Homo sapiens: one gene and its partners. The protein of the gene in region 2 interacts with the protein of the main gene of each other region in a biochemical or structural test. Each region holds a gene or a part of one and is shown on either strand. Other genes may lie near its edges. The genes, in order: PTPRE, KCNB1 and VAPA.

The links.
Region 1: the proteins of KCNB1 (region 2) and PTPRE form a complex in vitro, tested with the Homo sapiens proteins (one study listed by BioGRID).
Region 3: the proteins of KCNB1 (region 2) and VAPA interact in a test that uses a peptide from one of them, tested with the Homo sapiens proteins (one study listed by BioGRID).

Annotation. Positions count from the first base shown.
Region 1 is NC_000010.11:127,910,080-127,917,188, forward strand, and holds part of PTPRE (receptor-type tyrosine-protein phosphatase epsilon isoform 1 precursor), read left to right. Parts: intron 1-7,109. UniProt on the Homo sapiens protein: Isoform 1 plays a critical role in signaling transduction pathways and phosphoprotein network topology in red blood cells. May play a role in osteoclast formation and function.
Region 2 is NC_000020.11:49,479,606-49,486,966, forward strand, and holds the start of KCNB1 (potassium voltage-gated channel subfamily B member 1), read right to left. Parts: upstream 3,064-7,361; 5' UTR 2,876-3,063; coding exon 2,309-2,875; intron 1-2,308. UniProt on the Homo sapiens protein: Voltage-gated potassium channel that mediates transmembrane potassium transport in excitable membranes, primarily in the brain, but also in the pancreas and cardiovascular system.
Region 3 is NC_000018.10:9,916,957-9,924,065, forward strand, and holds part of VAPA (vesicle-associated membrane protein-associated protein A), read left to right. Parts: intron 1-7,109. UniProt on the Homo sapiens protein: Endoplasmic reticulum (ER)-anchored protein that mediates the formation of contact sites between the ER and endosomes via interaction with FFAT motif-containing proteins such as STARD3 or WDR44.

The DNA of each region.
Region 1 (7,109 bases), on a different chromosome or scaffold from region 2:
CACAGAAGTTCTGTTGCCAAAGCAGGAATGAATGTATCCATTAGGGTAAAGACTGGCCTTCTTAATATTTGAATATCACTTGGGAAGAAAACTACAGTTCTAAGAACATCTCTAGTTTTTCTTTTGGCTTTCTTCCTACTGACCCAATGGCTTTGTCTTCCATAAAGCTCCCAAAGCTTTCCAGATCCCAAGACTCAGCTCCCTGCTCTCAGCCTCCTTCCCCTTTATTTCCATCTTAGAAACTCCTACCCATACCTCAAGGCCCACCTCAAAAGTCTCAGTCTCCACAAAGCCTTCCTGGCTCCCCTACCTGAGAGGAATCTCTCTTACTCTTGGTTCCATAGAACGTTATTTCTGCCTGTCCTAAAGCACTTACTGGACTTGACTTTGATTTCCAGTTCACTTGCTCAAGTAGTTTATCTCCTCCACTAGGCAGCCAGTGCTTTAAGGGTGGAGGGTGTGTCTCTGAGAGCATGTACTTTGGGTTCAGTCAGTCAAGTTCTGACTCTGGTGTGACCTTGGCTAAATGACTCAAAATGCAGGCTTCAGTGTTCTCTAGAATGGGAGTAATCATCGCTACTTCCCAGGGCTGCTGCTGTGAGGGGGACATAGGATACATATAATTGACAGGCCGCTTGGCTGGTATGCAGTAAACTGTGGTTATCTTTCCCCTACAACATCTAATGCTGTGCATTGCACATGTAAGAATCAGTGAAGTTTGAGGCCGGGTGCAATGGTTCACACCTGTAATCCCAGCACTTTGGGAGGCTGAAGCACGCAGATCACTTGAGGCCAGGAATTCCAGACCGGCATAGGCAACATGATGGAACTCTGTACCAAAAACACAAAAAAATTAGATGGGCATGGTGGTGCACACCTGTAGTCCCAGCTACTCAGGAGGCTGAGGTGAGAGAAACATCTGAGCCTGGGAGGTCAGGGCTGCAGTGAGCCATGTTCACACAACTGCACTCCAGCCTGGTTGACAGAGAAAGACCCTGTCATGGAAAAAAAAAGAATCAATGAAGTTTGAATGAATACATGAACCAAGCCAAAAACCATACAAATAGATAGATACCTTTTGTGCATCATCCAGATCAGTAGGTCAAATCAGTGTGGTGTGGCATGCCAGATAATTTTTGCATGGCAATCTAAATGATTATTATGTAAATTTTGCGTGATTAAGTATTTTAATCCCATAATGTTATCACTTACCATGAAGGCATTCATTCTTCAATATGCACCATTGACTCCAGTGATCGATGAGGCAGAAATGCAACTTGCTGTGCACATTAACCAGGCTCGTGGCCTGAATTAAACCAGGCTGGGTGTGAGGCACTGCAAAAGCAAACGAAACCCACCCCTGAGAAGCAGTGTGGCCTAGAATCAGGTGTCTGGAATCAGGGTAAGAGAGCAGCTTCTAGACCAGAACATAAAGCTAGGAAGCTGTGGCCTACCCTAGAAACTCTCAGAACTTCACTTTGCTTATCCAAAGAAAGGGGCTGTCCTGGGCCATCTCTGGGCCCCTCACAGCTGCTGCACTTCCGCCCGATTTCACCCCTTCCCCACCACTGGGCAGGAAGGGCTGCTGACTCCGTACAAGGCTGGATCCCAGGCAGGGAGGCCTCCTGTTTCTTGGCTCAGCATTTGGGCCACGTGTCTCTCTGCTCTGGACACCAAATCTAGAGAGAGTGAGGAGAGGCCCGTGGGTACATGTAGCGTGCTGCCAATTTTAGGTACTGGCCCTAGACATATCAAGAGTTTATTTTGGAGGATTAACTTCTCATTATTTTGTCACTAGGATTTTTTTTTTTCACCAAAAGCAGAGTGCTGGATGATATTTTAGATGGCTGGGATTTTAGATCAGCCATACCTGAGGCAATAAGAGTTGGTCGAATGTTACCAATCCTTGAGCAGACACAGATGAGCAGTTGCGGGGTCGTTCGCTGCTGGATGTGGGCTAGGAGACCCCTGGTTTGGGGATTATGAAGGCAGCCTCCTTTTCTTCCCTGGGCTCTGGCTGCTGTTTTCCCAGTCATACCCATCATGGTCTGCCCTGTCCAGGTGTTCCATGTGGGGAGTATTGATGTGGTGCCCAGCCTTTGAACTGTTAACAACACCCTGCTCACAGCCAGAAATGTGGGCCCCACATCTTTCTTTCAACTGTATGAATACTTCAGAGGCTTTGATTGAGCTTAAGAAATACAAATTCTTAACAATATATTTCAGAAAAATAAACATATCCTTTTATATTGATTCCCAATGAAATAGGGGCCAGATAAAATATTTTAAAAGGGCATCTGTTTTTAAAAATATCTTTCAAATGCAATCAAGAATGTTCAGTTAATCCGGTCCATTATGTATATTGTAACAAGTAACAAAAGGGGCAGAGAAATCTTTCTCCCAAAAACAAATATAAAGTCCAGCAGGGAGTAGGGAAATGTTTGAAGAAAAAAAAAAGATTCTTAGTTATGTGCTAAAAACCAAACGTGTTTTGGGCAGGTGCTTTGATGTTAGTGTTTGTTGGGTGGAGAGTAAAGAATTGATAGGAAAACTTGTTTGGATCCCAGGTCTGGGTGCCAGCTACACTACATTTGATCCAATGGAAGGGCTAGCATGGGAACAATAGCATTTGGTGTGAGCGCCCTGGGCAGGTACATGACTCTGTCGTCAGCTCCCAGGGATGGACAGCCAGTCCCACAATGCCTGGAGCTCAGAGCTCACTCTGTGCATGTATGTGACATGGAGAGATGGATGGATGAAGGTAATAGAACTGAGTAGGAGCCTGTCCAGGTAGCAGTGGAGGAGGCCAAGTGGCGGAGGCCTTCCCTGCCATGATTTTACTCTGTCTGAATACCAGCAGCAAGTGGAAGCCACGGGGCTTTATTTTCAAGGGAGGTGACACAGCCTGGGGCTCAGGGAAAGGACTTAGGAGCAGAATGACTGGGATCAGATGGGGGCCCATGAGACTGAGGCTCTGGACAAGGCAAGGGACTTCCCCTGGCCCAGTGTGAGCCCAAGTCTTTACGGTGGGGAGCATGATGCCGCCAAGGCAGCTGCACGGGGATCGGTGGAGGTGGTACGCAGAGGCCTGGCCCCATGATCACCAAAGGGCCAGCGGTCTCACACAAGGCAAGGGCCCAGGGGACCGGAATCAAAGGCCTGAGATGATGTGAGCCCTGACTTCTCCTCTGCCACAGTCGCTTTGTCCTCAAGGCAAGTCATTTAATTCCTATTCAATAAATGCACAAACATAATTTTTGGTTATTAATGTCCCTAAATCTGTTTGGACATTTCCAGCTGAACATTAGTCACCAGTTTTGTACTAGAGAGAAAATTAGTTCCATCTTTCTTCTCAACTGAGATTTTTAAATGTCCTATCACATAGCTACTTGATTACAGTGTATTATTTTAAATGACCTCTGTACTAAGTCCTTTTATTTTGGCGTCCTCTCACTCCAGAAGGACTTGGCATTGGCATTTTTCAGGCTGTGTCTCCACAGTAGGACTTTCATAGGTCTGCGGTGCAGACTGGTTTGCTGTCCACAGGCTTGGCCCTGACTCCTCGGCTAACATGCACAAGGGCGCTCTGAGGGTCGGGAACGCACCCACCAAGCACAGCCCAGACGAAATGGAAGCTCCTGTCCAGGCAGGTTCCCGGTGAAACTCTAGGGAGCTCCAGCCTTCCTTTCTTCTCCAGTTTATTAAGAGGCTGGCCTCAGAGGTGGACACCTACTTCCACAATTTGATGTCCGACCCTGGGACTCTCCTCTTTACCCTGCCCCCACCTCATCCACCAGCCTTTTGGTCTGAAATCCTTGTCATGGGGTAAAGCTTTTTATTCTGTTGTTGGAAACACAGTATATGGTTTGGCTGTGTGTCCCCTCCAAATCTCATGTTGAAATGTGGTCCCCAGCGTTGGAGGTAGGGCCTGGTAGGAGGTATTGGATCATGGGGGCAGGTACCTCATGATTACTAGCGCCATCCCTTTAGTGATGAGTGAGTTCTTGCTCAGCTAGTTCACATGATATCTGGTCATTTTAAAGAATGTGGCACCCCCCACCCACTCTCTCTCTTGTTCCCACTCTCACTGTGTGGCATGCTGGCTCCCTCCCTCTGCCTTGATTGGAAGCTTCCTGAGCCTCACCTGAAGCAGGTGCCAGCATTATGCTTTGTGCACAGCCTGCAGAACCATCAGCCAATTAAACCTCATTTCCTTATAAATTACCCAGCGTCAGGTATTCCTTTATTGCAATGCAAGAACAGACTGACACACACAGCACAGGTGGAAATACAGGCTTTGCGGACACCGGTGGCCTGTTTTTCTGACACTATCATACTTCCCAGGATAGGCTCTACTCTTAACTCTTCTAACCCCATCCACTTGTTATAAAACACACTTTCAGAAAAAGGCTAGGTTGTTACTGAGGTAACATGGGATGGATCTTTGGAGGTGGGAAGGCCTCCAGCCTCCTCTGGGGAAGACAAAGTAAATCCTCCCTATGGAATTCTCCAGCTTGTTTTCTTGATTCCAGAGAGACCTGCTAGTGAATTCAACTAACAGGTTGGTTTTCAGCACAGAATATTTCCTACAGATGTCGGTGTTTCTTTCCAAATCCTTCCTCTCTTCAGGGCGCTTTCCCACTGTTCTAGACGTAGGAGAGAAAGCACTTCTCAGATGGTGAGCTTTTATCTTCCAATCTTGTCAACCGAGGAGACCTGGAAGTTCCCTTTCAACCTGGAATGTGAGCCCTGCTTGCTGGGCACGAGATAAGGACCAAGGATTGACCCAGGACAATTTCAGAGAGCACAGGGGTGGCATATCCTCATGTCAGGGCGTGGAGCTAATATTCAGACCCAAACACTCTGAATCTCTGAAGCAGAAGCTCTCTTAAAATTCCTGGGGAGGAAATCAGTATGAATTAATAAAAAGCCTGAATATTGTGGATTTTTATTAAATTCGAGGATTTATAGTAACTCAATCCAGGCCAACAAAACGTTGCCTTCCGGTACTTACTTTAATGAATAGAAAGCATGTAAATGCTCTTCCAAAGAGAATAACACATTTTAGCATCTTAAATATGTAAAAATAAAACTCCTGTACAATCCTAGTTGCACTAGGAAGTCTACTTATCAAAAAAAGAAACTTCTGTTTCCAGCCACATTATTTCAAATCATCCCAAAACTTACATTGTTACTAGTAAAATTTTTCATTGTGATTAACACTTTTTTTCCAGTATGGTTTTCCTCTTTCTGAAAGCAACCTTAGTTTCATAAACAGTTGGACATTTAAGTACTGGTCAAAAAAGTACTCTGAACCAGTAACCTCGTCCTTAATTTTGAACTGCTGTTGACTAAGCGCTCTCTTTTCCTAAGCTCATAGCAGCCCTTCGTTCAGTGCTTCAGTAATTCAATAAATTACTTTTTGCCAAGGTTGCAAACATCAGCTAAAGTTCAGTCATCTACTGGAGATGTTATCAGTCTGTCCATTTAAATTCTTTTGCGCAAAGTCCAGATTTGGACCCAAAGTAATATAAAAATGCAAGAGCCAGAAATTTAATAATTTTGTACTGTGTTGTGCCAAGCCAGGCCTATTCTTAGCTAGCCAACAACATTCTTTCAAAGGATATTTTTTGGTTTTCATCAAATGTAAATAGTGTTTAAGAGTCTGTAATATCATTTAGAAGGAACAAATGGAAGTATTAAACCTTTATTGACTACCTACAGTATATAGAGGATCTATAACTTATGATGGTTTTATTATAGTTTCTCAACCTTACAATGGGTTTATTGGGCATTGGGTACATTTTAAACTTATGATATATTCTATTTACAAGGGGTTCATCAGGATATGACCTCACTGTAAGCCCAGGAGCATCCGTACGTACAAGCACTGTGCTTAGCGCTGGAGTTACAGGGAAAAAAAAAAAAAAAGGCACGATGGCTTGTGACATCCTGTGGATGCTCCAGGTCCACAGGAAGACAGAACTCACTTCCAGGGAGTGTTAAATGTGATGCTGGATGCTCCTGTGGAGGAGGGGAGACATGGAAGGGCCTCCCCAGGTAGAGCAGTGACGTGGTCTGGCTCTGTGTCCCCACCCAAATCTCATCTTGAATTGTAATCCAAATAGTAATCCCCACATGTTGGGGGAGGGACCTTGTAGGAGGTGATTAGATCATGAGGGTGGTTTCCCCCATGCTGTTCTCATGATAGTGAGTGAGTTCTCATGAGATCTGATGGTTTTATAAGGGGCTCTTCCCCCTTCACTTCACTGTGCACTTCACTGTGCACTTCTCCTTCCTGTCGCCTTGTGAAGAAGGTGCCTTGCTTCCCCTTCCACCATGATTGTCAGTTTCCTGAGGCCTCCCCAGCCATGCTGAACTGTGAGTCAATTAAACCTCTTTCCTTTATAAATTACCCAGTCTTAGGCAGTTCTTTATAGCAGTATGAAAACAGACTAATACAAGCAGGCTTGGTTTACTGGGCCATTTCCTAGGCAGCTGACAGGGATTGAGCATTCCAGACAGAGGGGCTACCATGTGCTTGCCTGGCAGTAGGAAGCGGTGTGTCCTGTCTGGGGAAGAGCAGGTGTCTGCATGGAGCTGGAGCCCAGGGACAGAGGGGATGGGACAAAAAGGTGGAAAGTTTAAGGATCACCCAAACATTTGTACACCATCCAGGAGTCTGGATTCTGTGTGACGGACCAGCAGTTCTTACCGTGTCTTAAATTATGACCCCCTTTGTGATTCTAGGGAAGACTATGGACTCATTCTCCAGAAAAACGCATGTGTGCACACAGTCATTTGTATAGTTTCAGCAAGTCTTTCCTAACACCCCTCCCCCCATCCTGAGGCTCACAGGTTCCAGGTGTGTCCCCTTTGTGCGGCCTGGCCAGCCCCACAGAGCCCAGCAGCATGCTCAGCTGTGAGTTTGAGAAGGGGTCCCCTGCTGGCTGTGTGTGGAAAGCCAGAATGGAGGTGACGGGGGAAACCGACTCAGCAGGTTGGATTTATAGGCAACATGACCATGTGGGTGAGAGGATGAGAGTGAGAACCAAGGCCCCGCAGTTTTCGGCCAGGGTGACTGGATGCATCCGGACCAGACACAGGCT
Region 2 (7,361 bases):
CCTGGGCCTTGTATGCCAGGATGAAAAGTCTGAATTTTATTTTGAGTGTGATGGGAAACTTCTGGAGGATTTTAAGCAGATGAATAATGTGATCCAATTTACATTTTGAAAAGCTCACTTTGGCTGCTATGTGGGGAATGGATTGCAGGGGCAAAAGTGGAAGCCGGGAGACTGGGGAGGAGGCTGCGGCACTTGATCATTATAGAAAGAACACTCGGTTTGGATTTCTGGCTACTCCTGACTGCCTGTGGTGTGACCTTAGGCAAGTTACTTAACCTCTTTCAGCCTCACTGTTTGCGAAAGGTGGGATAATAACAGAGCTGCGTTGTTACACTCCATACACAGTAGGTGTTTGATCATTGGCAGCCAGGATTTCTATTCTGAGGGCCAGTGAGCCTGCCTCCCTCCCCATTTCAGCTCTGGCTACAGAAAATCCTAGATGGTCCATCTGCCAGGAATGTGAGCTGGCAGCCCCAGACTGGGATCATGGAGAGGTCACAAGGCTGTCCCTGCTAGCGGATTAACCCAAGGGAGAGGAGAGGTTCTTTATTCCCAAACAGCACCTCTTGCAAGCCCCGGTGCTTGGGTCTTGCTGCCAGACCAAAACATGGCCCTGTGCCTGCTTCTTCTCTGGGAGGGCAAATTGTCCAGTTCCCTGTACCTTGTTCTCATGTCTTAGGGATGGGACAGGGAGGGAGAGTCACATTTGGGCCTAAATGGGATGTGCAGTGGGAGAACCTGTGTCATGCCTGGAAATAGCAAAATAAGTCTGTTGATCCTAAGCTGATTAAGGGTGAGTGACTCTGTCTTAGGAGGAGGCTTTTTGGACACAAAATTGGGGGCGGGATTATGGAGAGAGACAGCCCACAGCCTCAGAGGAGGAAGCCAGGCCCAGGAGCCTCTACATCCTTGTTAGGGCCAACAGGGAAACGAAAAAAACACGTGGGGGCTCCCTCCACCCTCTTACCAGCCACCCCTTCTCCATCCACTCTCAGGGGCCTCTCCTTGGGTGGCTAGATCTGGAGGAAGGACCCCACGGAGTCTCCCTTCAGACTGGGACCTGCAGGTGGGCCTTCAGTGAGAACTGAGCCGGAGACCCCACAATGAAAGGCTGGGCTGGACAGGAGTCAGCCCTAGCTAGTAAGATATGGCTGGATATTTAGGCTTCCTCCTCTCCTCTTTCTTTTACCACAAATCTACTTACCTGACCCCTTTTTTTAGGCCCCACACTCAGTTACATTCTCCCCATGTTTCCCAAGTTGGTCTTGCTGGATTTCAACATCAACATCTCTCTTTTCTGGGTTCTCCGTGAACCTCACAGAACCTCTTTTATAGCCTTGCACACACTGTTTTGTCATTTGCTCCCAGCACCCAGCACTTCGGGCACATGAAGACAGGCCCCATCTTTCCCAGGCAACCCCAAATCCCAGCCTGACGTAGAGAAGTTGCTGATCAACCAGTGCCCTCCTGCCCTGCCTTGGCTCCCACCCCAAGCCTTCCTCAGTCCCCTACAGCCCCTGCCATTACCCAGCAGCACCAAAGACTCTCTGGCCCACTCTTTGTGTTCAAACTCATTCCTGCCTCCTCCTCCTCCTCCTCCTTTATTTTTCACATTGCCTCATTTTTCTCTCCTATTTTGAAATTTACATCTTGTTCCAAGAGCTGAAACATCTTTACAAGCTGCACCAAACCATTCTGGAAATAAACTCACCAAATAAATAAGTAACCAGGGGGTGACCCCTCACCCGCAAGCATCCACAACCAACTGCATGTGTCGTGTGGGTCCACACCCACCCCTCGGGGTCCCTTCTTACTTATGTTTAAACTATCTGACAGTATCTCAATGTCCTGTAAGCATGTCTGTAAGCTGCTTTTTTCCCTTGCTGGGGCAGAGTGAGGTTATAAATATGGAGATATTAAAATCACAGGGTGATCCAATCCAGCCTAGGTCTGGGACTTCACAGGGAAGCAAACCCTACTCCACCCCAGCAAGCCACTGTTGTCTCTCTGTGCTCTCTCTCTTATTCGTCAGTGTCCATCTTCTTGCTGTGGCTTTTTATGGGTCCCTGTGAAACCTCTCCAACCAAGTAGGGGTATAACGTCTTGGATAATAAAAAGATGGAGTGACCAGTGCCACATGGGAAAAGTCTGAGGGGGTTGGTCCTCACCTCTGGGGACTCAGTCCTAGCCCCTCCCCATTACTAATCTTCATCGTTGGGAACAAAGCCAGAGTCCTCCAGCAGTGGTCCTCAATATGGGGATGCAAGCAGATCCCCCCAGACCAGCAGCCCCCAGATCCCAGACTCACCTTGGCAGCCACAGAGGAATTGGGCTTCTCCAGTAGGTCCCAGAGTTTTTTCCTCTTCTCTGCGCAGCACGTGTTATCGAACTCCTCGCCTTCCCGCTCCCGTAGGGTCTCGGCCTCACGCTTGAGCTCCTCGTTCATCTGCTCTTTCTTCTGGTGGTAGCGGGCCTGGCAGCAGGACTCCAGGTAGATCTCGTCGATGCCCCAGTAGTCGAGCTCTTGGCTGAAGCTGAGCGCGCACATCTCCTCCATCATGTGCAGTCGCCCAGTGCGGTAGAAGTTGAGGATGGAGGTGAAGGCGCCCGGGTGGCGGTCAAAGAAGTACTCGTTGTCGTCGAGGCTGTAGTCATCGCACACCTCGAGCAGCGAGTCGTGCGTGTTGCAGTCGCGGAGCTTGCCCAGCCGCGTGCGGGGCAGGCGGTCCAGGGTACGCCAGAGTACCTCGTGCGCCAGCCCCCCGACGTTGAGGCGGACCCGCCGAGAGCACGCCTTGCTGCGCACGATCTCCATGGGCTCGGGCGGCAGCGAGCTGGTGGAGCGGGAGCCATGCTTCGTCATGCCCGCCGGCATCGCTGATCCGGCCGCCCCCGCCCCCCCTGCCCCCCCAGGCCGCTGTCACTCGACGGCAAGGCCCGCTGCTGCGGGGGAGGGGGGCAGGGAGCGCTGTGGGCTGCTGGGGGTGCAGGGGGCCCCGCGGGCGCGCGTCACGGCCGTCTTCTCACCTCCATCCCGACGGCTGCGAGGCAGAAAGCGAAAGCGGACGCGGGTCAGCAAACGGGGAGCTGGGCATGCTGTCCCCCCGCCCCCCACCTCTCCACCAGGCTCCCAGCCGGCCTTGACCTTCCCCCGCGCTTAAGCGGCTCAGTGGGGTAGGACGGATGGTCGCTGTCCCTCCCGCCGGTGCTGAAGTCCGCCGCACCCCATGGATGGAGGGAGGGGCCGCCCCTCGGGGCGGGGAGAGGGCCCCAAGAGATGCCCCTGGAGCCCGGGAGGCCCCACCCTGGGCTTCTGCGGCCCAGGCGCGACCCAGCCGCCCGGGGCGCTGTCCGCCCCTTAGAGTGCTGAAACTCTCTTCATTATGGGTCTCCCGATCGAGTCCCGAACCTGGCCCCGCCATGGGGAGAGAGGGGGAGCTGCATGAAAACTTTCTTTCTTTATCTTTTTCTTTCTTTCTTCTTCTTCTTTCCTTCTTTTTTTTTTTTTTAACGAGTTCTCTTCTTTTCCTTCCCCTTCTCGAGATAATCAAGATTTTGGGGGTGGGGGAATGGCAGCGGGCTTTTTTCCAAATCTTAAAAGATTTGGGGGAATTCCGGGGGTTCCAGGTGCCCACCTGTCCGAGGTCACAACAGACGGGGTGTGCACAACAGCCCCTCTGTCCTGGAGCGACCCCTCTTCCCAAACACTGGAGCATCTCCTGAGATTGCTCCAGCGACAAGGTGAGCCGCGAGGAGGAAAAGCCCGCTCTCGCCTCTCCCTCTGAGCCCCCAACCCTACCGCAGGAGGGGCGGGCAGAGTCCTCGGGATCCGCCTGCTCCGTCCTCCCCTCGCTCCTTCCCCGCCCCCTTCTCCTCCTTCTCCTCCCCCTCCTCTTCCTTCTCCCCCTCCTCCTCCTCTTCCTCCTCCTCCTCCTCCTCCTCCTACTCCTCCTCCTCGTTCCTCTCCCGCGATGGCTTTTTATAACTCCGGGTTCTGCGCCTTTCCCCGGGCTTGGAAGGGAAGGGGTGGGGGAGGTGGGAGGCGGGGAAATGAGCTAAATTTTCTGGCCTTTTCAAAAGGTGCCATCCTCCTACCGCGCACTAGTGATTTCGGGGGGTTCCCCTGAGCACCCCCTGCATGTAGGGCTCACGCCTTAGCCCCAGAATGGGGATTGCGCGTCCCCTCAGGCCTCAGCCCTTGCCTGCCTCCCACCCCGCTCCCCTCCAGCCTGGAGCTGCGGAGCCCGAGCAGACCAACAGGCCGAGCTGCGGCAGGCAAACCCCCTGTCCGTGTCCCCATGCACCCCCACGGAAGGCCGTACGCCCCAACACTCACCCCCAGGGCGGCCGCCTCCTGGGGCCAGGGACCGCGCATCGTCCCGGCCGCCCGGGCGCCCCCGCCCGTGGGCAGCGGCGGTCCCGGGGCCGGGCTGAGCCGGGCCTACCCCGGCCGGGCAGGCAACTCGCCCGGGCTGCAGGCGCCGCGGGGCCGGGGCGCGCTCTCCGAGGCGGGGGGCGCCGGCGGGCGCCGGGGGCGCGGGGGCAGGACCGCGGCCGCGCGGCACCTCCTCCACCTCCTCCTCCTCCTGCTCCCGCGGCGGCGGCGGCGGCGGCTGCCTGGGCGAGATCAACAAGTCGGGGCTGAGCTTCGGCTCCGCGCTCGCTGCTATTCTGTCCCGCACTTCGGAGCGCCCGGAGCCGGGCACCAAGGCAGGACGGCGCCACCTGCGGGTCGGAAGCGAGCGCGGCTTAACTCCTGCCTGCCCGGCCCAGCCTGCCGGGGAGGCCGGGGGCGGGCTCCGGGATCGGGCCAAGGAGACGCGCGTGGCCGTGCATCCCTCTCCACCCAGGCCACCTGCACAGCTGGCCTCGCGATCCCGCCTTCCTTCGTCCCGTCAACAACGTGTGTTGAACGCCTCCTGTGCGCGAGCCGCGGTGCAGGGCACGGTGACAGGCGTCTGAGATACAGCTGTGAATCAAACACAAACATCCGGCCCTCGTGGAGCTGGTTGGAAACAGATCATAAACAAAAAAGCGAAAGGATATATGAGGCGGTGACAAGCGCTGGGGGAAATAATGAAACAGGAGGAAGGGTCAGAGGGTGGGAGGGGGCAGATCGGAACTGTAAATAGCCCTTGCTTTCATGAGCTTCCATTCTAGATTTTAGCGGGGGGTCGGGGGTGGGGGACGGAGGCGGACAATGAATACATCAGTACATATGCAATGTGGCAGGTGGTGATAACCGCTAAGAAGAAAAATAAAGCGAGGTATGGGGAAGAGAGGGTGAAGAGTGAGCTGGTTTATATAGTCTGGTGATTCATTCATTCATTCATTCATTCATTTATTCATGTTAAGTTGGACATCTGGTTATTGACAGCTTCCTATGTGCAAGCAGAATGCCAGGCTCCGTGAAGGGAAAGTCTTCCCCCTGGAGCTCCCCATCCAGTGGGGGAGGCAAAACCCATCACATAATCCCAGAAATGAAAACTGGAGGAGGTACCTGGAGAGGCAGGCAAGGGTTCTCTAAGGATGCCACAGATGGGCCTTGTGTTTACTCATTTATTCTTTCAAATATTCATTTACTGCATGATAAGTAAATAGGTGTCAGCGGCCGGGCACAGTGGCTCATGCCTGTAATCTCAGCACTTTGGGAGACTGAGGCGGGAGGATGGCTTGAGCCCAGGAGTTGGAGACCAGCCTGGGCAACATAGTGAGACCCATCTCTGCCAAAAAATAAAAAATTAGCTGGGCATGGTGCTGCTTACCTGTGGTCTCAGCTACTCAGGAGGCTGAGGCAGGAGGATCACTTGAGCCCAGGAGGTCAAAGCCACTATAAGCTGTGATTGCACCTCTGCATTTCAGCCTGGATAACAAAGTGAGACCCTGTTGCAAAAAAAAAAAAAGAAAAAAAAAAGTGCCGGGGATGGGTACAGCAGTGAGCTCCCCTGCCCTGGAGGACAAAAACTGAACAAGATACAGTGTTCCAACACAGGTTCCTCTCTGGCCCTTTTCTTCCTTTCTAAAATTAAGGGGTTCATTTCCATAATTTCCATAGAGTTGCACATAATATTATTATATATTTTTTACTTGTCCACTTATCATCTCCACCATCATGACCCTTGTCCAAGGTACCATCGTCTTGTCTCCCTGCAACCTCCCTGCAACTTGGCTCCCATCTTGGCCTCATCCCTGGCTCCCATGCCTGGCTCCCATCTTGGCCTCCTACAGTTCATTCTCCCCATGGCCACCAAAACAACTGCTACATTTCATGGACCATGAAATGTTGGACCATGTTTCTCATCTGCTTAAAACCTTCCCAAGACTTTCCCTTGCTTTAGACTAAAACCTAAACTTCTGGCCTATTGCCCTAATTCAGCCCGCCCCCCTTTCTGAGCTTGTAGACCAGTGGAGGAAGACAGGTAACTAAAAAAGTAAATTTTTAAAGAGAGAGTTTCAGGCTACAGTGATTGTTATAAAGGAAATGGAACATCATGATGGGGTGGAAAAAGAGAGACCAAGCTGCTAGTGTTACACAGGGTGGTCAGGAAGGGTGTCTCAGAGGAGATTAATAGAGATTGAAAGATAAGAAGGGACTAGCCATGGGGAGAATGAGGGAAATGCATTCCAGGTGGAGGAAACAGCAAGTGCAAATGACCTGGGGTGTGAGAGACAGTGAACAATCACATTCCCTCCTGCTTCAGTCTGGTGTTCCTAGGGTCAGAAAGGGTTCTCAGCTGGCCCCTCTGTAAGCCTAATCTGTTGAAGGCAACTTTTCTCCAGAGATCTGGGCATTCCCACAGGAGGTTTCAGAAAGCAATAAATCCTTCCTGATGAGAGGGAAAAAATGACTCTATAATGGTGAAATTTCCAGGCATTACTGCAGGCATTACGGTGCCTTCCAGGTACAGCTAAAATAACACCTAGAAGTGCGGTTCTTCTCTACTCCATATAACCAAGGAGTGGAGATGCATGTTTGTTGGGCACCTACTACAAGTAGTCCTCTGAAGGTATAACATCCATCAGCTTCCACATCTGTAAATAAGAGATGAGGTTATTTATAGATGTGGAAGCTAAAGCTCCGAGAGAAGGTGTCTTGCCCAATATCTTGCTGGCAAGTGCTGGCACAACCAGATATGGGAATCTCTTGTTTGACTCCAAAATCAACGGGCTATCCAAATACCAGAGCAGCCTCTCTGCAAAGTCCTTTCTCCATCAGTTCATTTATTGATTAATGGAATCATTCCAGATGTTTACTGAGCATCTACTGTGTGCCTCAGCATGGGTGTTGGTGCTGGGAATTGAGGGTGAGTAATTTATATGGTCCCTGTCCTCGTGGAGCCACACACCTCTCTTGCCAAGGC
Region 3 (7,109 bases), on a different chromosome or scaffold from region 2:
AGTATGTTGCACAATTTTGCAAAAGCAGACACCAACTATTTCAGTACATTTTTCTGTATACCTCAGTATTTAAAAAAAAGTTTGTTTTATACAGTCGTTAACATATAAAAGTGCATTTACGATGTAATGAATTCTGAAGTAGATCACTTGTGTTAGTAAAGAAAAAGAAGTAGACGCTGCTTTACTTCAAATTCTGTTTAAACCTTGGAAGTAATTTTACCTAGATTTCAGATTTGAAACTTGGTATTTTATGTGAAAGATTTTTTTTGTCTTTAAAATTTTTTACATGATAAAATTCCATTTATAATGTATTACACATTTTATTTTTCTACCTATTAGCAGTTTTTTTAAATTTTTTTATTTTTTGAGACGGAGTCTTGCTCTGTTGCAGTGGCTCGATCTCGGCTCATTGCAGTCTCTGCCTCCCGGGTTCAAGCAATTCTCCTGCCTCAGTCTCCAGAGTAGCTGGAACTACAGGCATGCACTACCATGCCCAGCTAATTTTGAATTTTTTGTAGAGACGGGATTTTGCCAGGCTGGCCTCGAACTTCTGACCTCAGGTGATCCGCCTGCCTTGGCCTCCCAAAGTGCTGGGATTACAGGCGTGAGCCACCGCACCTGACCCCTATTAGCAGTTTTGTAGAAAAGTTTGAAGAAGAAAGTTTATAAAATGCTAAAATAAATTTCAAATATATTCTTAATGATCAGAGAGAGACGAAAATAAACCAAAATCCTTATGTTGAGAGTGGCCGATAACAATAAATCAACAAAGAAAATTAAGCTCTCTGAGGGATCGAGGGACGTATGGTGTTAACATCAGCTAGTGCATCTGCATAGAAGCAGCACGGGGCGGGGGGGAAATTAGAGAATACTCCTCTGGATGGATATTTAGCACATTTTTAGGTGTTTCCAGTCGGCTCTTCATGTTTCCCAGTGGCTATACAAAACGCCTGGGGCTCTAAAGACATGAATGTAATCTTTAATCATATATTACTCCATTCCTTAGTTTTTAGGTAACTCTCAATTGCTCACAGAATAAAAGTCAGATTTTTTTTTTTCAGTAAGACATACCATCTCTTCCATGATGTGCCTTCCTCTTGTAACACCTGTTAGTCTGTACACATCCATACTTTCTTCCCTGAGAAAGAAAAACCCTGCTCATACCCAAGGTTCTTTGTTCCTCTATTTTTGCTGGCTAAGGTAAAATTCCTTATGACTCAGACCATGTTCCATGAGATGTTTTCCTGCTGGTTTTCAATCACTGGCTGCATTGTTTTAACATATAAATACACCAGAGTCTTTGATTTTAAAAACAAATGAGCAGACATGTACTTCTTTGACCATAACTCTTTCTAGTATGTGTCTCTCCCTGTCCTTCATTTCCTTTGCATTCAGACTTTTTGGAAAAATAGTCCATATTCACTGTTTTTCCAGTTACTCACCTTTTATTCTCTCCTTAGTCCACGGTACTTTTATCCTCTCACTACTTATTGCTAACTTAATCATTTCCAGTTTTTATCTTACTTGACCTCCCCCTGGCTCTTGACAGTACCGACAGTTTCTCTAAAAAAAACCCTCAATTCTTCTGGCTTCTATAACAGCATTGTCTTCTAATTTTCTTATTTGCTCCATTTATTGTCTTATTTGTGGCATTTTCCTCAAATGCTCATGTTTCTGAGATTCTGATTTGGTTTCATTTATCTCACTCTGTGAACTTTCTTTGTTCATTTCATTGTTTTGAGGTTTTCTCTTTATCTTCCTTGCTCTCTGCAGGTATTGCTACACCCCCAAGTCTGTTTTAATTCACATTTTACCGTCAGTCAAGAGCACATACTCAAACAACTTATTCACTATTTAGATTTGAATATTGCACAGATATGATATTCTAAACTCAAAATATCTCAAAATTTTTACTACCCATGCCTACTCTTCTTCCCATATTTTTTATTTTTATTTTTGAGATGGGGTCTTGCTCAGTTGCTCAACCTGGAGTGCAGTGGCATGCACGTTCTTGGCTCACTGCAGCCGTGACCTCCTGGGCTCAAGTGATCCTCCTGAATAGCTAGGACTATAGGTGCATGCTACCATGCCCAGCTAATTTTTTACGTACATATGGGGGTGCCGCTGTGTTGCCCAGGCTGATCTCGAACTCCTGACCTTGCGTGATCCTCCTGCCTTGGCCTCCTAAAGTGCTGGGATTACAGGCCTGAGCCATTGCACTTGGCTTTATTTTTATTTTTTAGTGGCATCATGATTACTCACACCAGAAACAATATGCATATCTAATAATTAAAATCTGTGTTTCTATTTTTGACATAATCCCTTTGTCCACTTCAATGTGTTTCTACTTCCAAATTCATTTATTTTTAAAATTCATTCAATTATGGATCTAATTTGATTAGATTTGAGTATCTGCTACATGTCAGGTATGATGAATAAATATTGGAACTACAGTTGTGAGTGAAACACAAGCCATGTTTTCATGGGGCAGTTCTAACAAGAGAGATAGATACTAATAAAATAATCAGAAGAATAAAGTGTACCCCTGAAGAGCTATATAGTGCTACGAGAATGTAAAATAAGGGTCTTCGATCAGGCTGTCACAGTTGAACTAAGATTCCAACAATGAGTAAAAGTTATCCTGGTGAAGAAGAAAGGAAAATGCATGTTCAAATATCCGGTAGCAGGAGGGACTGTGAAACATTTACCATACTGAAAGAGGTCGGCGTGGCAGTGGTGAAAATAGTCAAGATGAATGTAGTGCTGGTTTAGTAGGTCAAGTTAGGAGTTTTGTTTTTATCCTGAGCCACTAGGGTTTTTAAGTGAGGGGAGGAGCAGTAAAGATGGAGGGAATCGAATAACATCACATTTGCATTTAAAAATAATTCTGGTAGCAATGTAAAATTATACTAGAGGGGAGAAAGAGATGAATTAGGCGGCTGCAGCAGTACTGGCAAGTGGTGACCCCTTGGACTGAGGTCATGGTATTGGAGGTGATGAAAAGTTAGGTTGAATCTGTGAGACTTGGTGGTCTCTATGTGCACTGAGAGAAAAGGGTATGAATGTCTGAGATTTCTGCTTATATAACTGGGGAAATGGTGGTGCTATTTGAGAAACGGTGGATGTCTGGATGAGGACGAAATGCATCTTATTTGGGGGTGTGTGAGAGAGATGGAGGAGGAGGACGTATGGTAGATATGTTTAGGTCTTTCAGGATATTAACATGAAGGTGGATTTGGTTAAATGGGTGTGTTACTTAAGAAAAGGTCTGGGCTTTGGATAATTTCCTTACTTCAGGTCCTTTTATATTTACTAGTCAGCAGACATCTCCTTTTCTTTTCTTTCTTTCTTTCATTTTTTTCTTGAGATGGAGTCTCGCTTTGTCACCCATGGTGGTGTGCAGTGGCGCTATCTCGGCTCACTGCAACCTCTGCCTCCCGAGTTCAAGCGATGCTCCTGCCTCAGCCTCCCAAGTAGCTGGGATTACAGGCGTGCACCACCATGCCTGGCTAATTTTTGTATTTTTAGTAGAGACGGGGTTTTGCCCTGTGGGCCAGGCTGGTCTCCCTGACCTCAAGTGATCCACCTGCCTCTGCCTCCCAAAGTGTTGGGATGACAGGCGTGAGCCACTGTGCCCAGCCTCCTTTATTGTCAGCTCTTTACCCTGTCCTCCACACTGCTGCTGGAACTACGCTTTGGAAAAAGGAGGCTGTTACTGTTAGTCCCTTGATTGAAGAACTCTAAATGTTTTCTTACTATGTACTTGAAAAATCCAAAATCCACTGCCTAACTCTCCAGCCTCAGTGTCTATTCTTTTTCTTCTGTCCATAACTTTGGCTATATGAAACCATTTTCCCAAACACTCCAGGCCACTGCAATGCTTTGCACAGGCTCTGCTTAGAATATTGTCCTCCCTCACGTCTGTCAGGCAGCCTCTTATTTCAAGAATCACTTCCTCTTGAGAAGTCGTTGATACTCTACCAGTCCAAGTTGGTCAGAGCCTTCATGCCACTGTTGAAGCTTGTGCTTACCTGTAATAACAGTACTTTCACATTAGATAGTAGTTAGGCTTACATATTCTCCCCTCCCAAACTATACTATGAACTCTGAGTATATACCTGTTAATGTTTGTAGTAACAAGTTCTGGCATCATAAAATGATTGCCCAGTAAGTGTTGATTGAATTAATAAGACTCAGATGATTTCTCCAGTAATTTTTATTTTTTGGTCTTGGATCTTGACTCAGTTGGAGTTTTCACCTGCTTTTGCAGGTAATAGTGCTTTCAAAATTTTGTACTTCCAGAAAAGGGGTGGTAGGCTATTTTGTAAAGAGCTGACTAACCCTAAAGGTAGGTTGTTTGATGTTTGTGTTTTTTTCATTTGTAAAGTAAGAGGTTAGGACTAGGTGATTTCTTGGGTGTTCTGTCTTTAAAAGTTTGTGTGAATATATGACAATTGAGTACAAAAAGAAAATGCTATTTTTCTGTGAAGCAGAAAAATGCATATAAAGAATAGGGAAAACTATACTTTTAATCCTTTAAAAAGATTTCATTGTGTATATTTGAGGTATACATATAACATGATGTTATGGGATACATATAGATAGTAAAATGGTTACTATAGTGAAGCAAATTGACATATGCATCATCTCAACATAGTTTCTTTTTATCTTACCTTTACTGACCATTTAGTGAAATCTTATTTGCCTTTCAGAGGTGGAAGTTGATACAGGATGGATCTTGCTCTCTTTTGATCATAAAGTTAGTTTTGGAAAAAAATTAAATGTGCGAGAGGACTGTTAACTTGCAAATGCTTGTTTACTGGTTTAATTCATTTTATAACTGAAATGTGACTCAAATTAGTTTTAAATTAGTAAGTTTTAAACGTTTGAAAACTTTCAAACATGAGCACCTTATAATATGAACCTCAGTATGCGTTAATTTAGTAAATTAAATTTAAATATAAATTTAATAATTGACATTTTACTATAATCATACGTGTTTATTTATATATTTTTGTTTGCCTCCATGTTTGTATTTTTTTGCAGCGGTCTCACTCTGACACCAGACTGAAGTGCAGTGGTGCTGTTATAGCTCACTGCAGCCTTGAACTCCAGGGCCCAAGCGATCCTTCTGAGTAACTAGGACTACAGGTGCATGCCACTGTGCCCAGCTAATTATTATATGTTTTATTTTTTGTAGAGACAGTCTTGCTATTTTGCCCAGCCAGATCTTGAACTCCTGGCCTCAAGCGATCCTCCTGCCTCAGCCTCCCAAAGTGCTGGAATTACAGGCATGAGCTACCATACCTGGCCTGCCTCAGTATTTTTAAAACAAATCCTGAATGATAGCATAACATTTCATCCCTAGATACTTGAGTTTGCATTTATAACCAAAAAAGGACATTTTCTTTGCATAATCATGATACTGTTAACACGTAATAACATTAACAGTAATTCTTTGATATCCTCTAATATTTAGTCTATTACAAAGAACAAAATCACACTTAAGAGTTTATTAATGAGCAATCTCAATGGCATAGGAAATCAGGTATACCTGGTCTCACAGGAAGAGGCTGTTTATAATCTAGATTCAAGGCCAGCCAATATATATGCTGGTGACTGACCAGTCAAAATTTTGATGGCTCACCTTGAAACACAACTATAAATAGATGGTTATAGGTTTCAGACCTTCAAGGTCATATGGACTGGGAGACAAAACAGTGGCTAATTTGGACCAGTGGCAAGCAGAAGCAACTAATTGAGAGAAAAAAGGCAGAGAAACGTAGGCAGAGAGGTCTTTTGATCCCAGGAATTAGTTTCTCTTGAATACAGCCTCTTCCTGTGATGCCAGTTATACTTCATTTCCTGTGCCATTGAATTGCTTACATCTTTATGATGAACTCTTCAGTATGGGTTTTTTTAATAATAAAATATTCTTTGCTTAAATGAGATTGAATTTGATATTTTCTGAAGCCATATTTGTAACACATTATTCTTTAACATTTCACTTTATAAAAAATAAATTCTGTAATCTGTTATACATATTTCACTTTGTAATTGTTATTCTGTAACACATATTTCACTTTATAAAAAGTCTAAACTAGTGTCTTCAATGCTTATAAAAGAAACCTCCGTATCATTTTTGCTGACTTATGCATCATTAATATACCATAGCATGCTTAGCTGCTTTTCTCTGGTGTTTGGATGTTCTTTATAACTAGTTATCACTAATGTTTGATACTGTTCTGAAAATTCAGATTTAAAGGAGTGAGAAGTTTAGTTACGTATCTTTTAGCTTTTTAAGGAAATGATTAGATTGAATTACCGTTAAAAAGTAGGGATGTTAATTAAAAAAGAATTGTTGCTATGAGAGGACTTTTAAACTTTTAGCATTTTAAGGAAATGATTAGATTGAATTACCGTTAAAAAGTAGGGATGTTAATTAAAAAAGAATTGTTGCTATGAGAGGACTTTTAAACGTATGTTTATAGTATAACTTGACAAATTTCTCATGGGCCTATGTTTTGACAGCTCTTTTGTAGCTGTATGTTTCATGTATGTGTGTATATGTGTGAAGTGTATATGAATATGTATATAATTTTAATTCTTGAATAATATGACATGGAGTGACTGTCATACTTTAAAGACATAGGGTGCCTTTAAATCATACAGTGTTTCCTGTTTAGTTTTTCCTGTGAAAAAATTTTACTTTTTAAAGCCTGTAGGGCCAGAATCTCTTGGTCTTGTTTTCTGAGTACTGTTCCCACTGAGAAAAACCTCACTAACAACAGATCCCCAAAAAATCTGTGGTTCTGAATTTTTTCAGTTTTTTCTTCCAGGATTTTACAAGTAAGAGGATTTATAAGCAAATTAAGCTACTATGGGTACATGTTTAAAAGTCCCTTGTTATATAAAATCAGTGCTAAATTAGAAAATGGAAAAAGTATAGATATTATAAAGCTGTCTATGGCCATACCACCCTGAACGCGCCCCATCTCGTCTGATCTCGGAAGCTAGCAGGGTCTGGTTAGTACTTGGATGGGAGATATTATAAAGCCAATAAAAATTACTCAATCTCACAAAATAACCTCTGTTAACATTTTGATAAA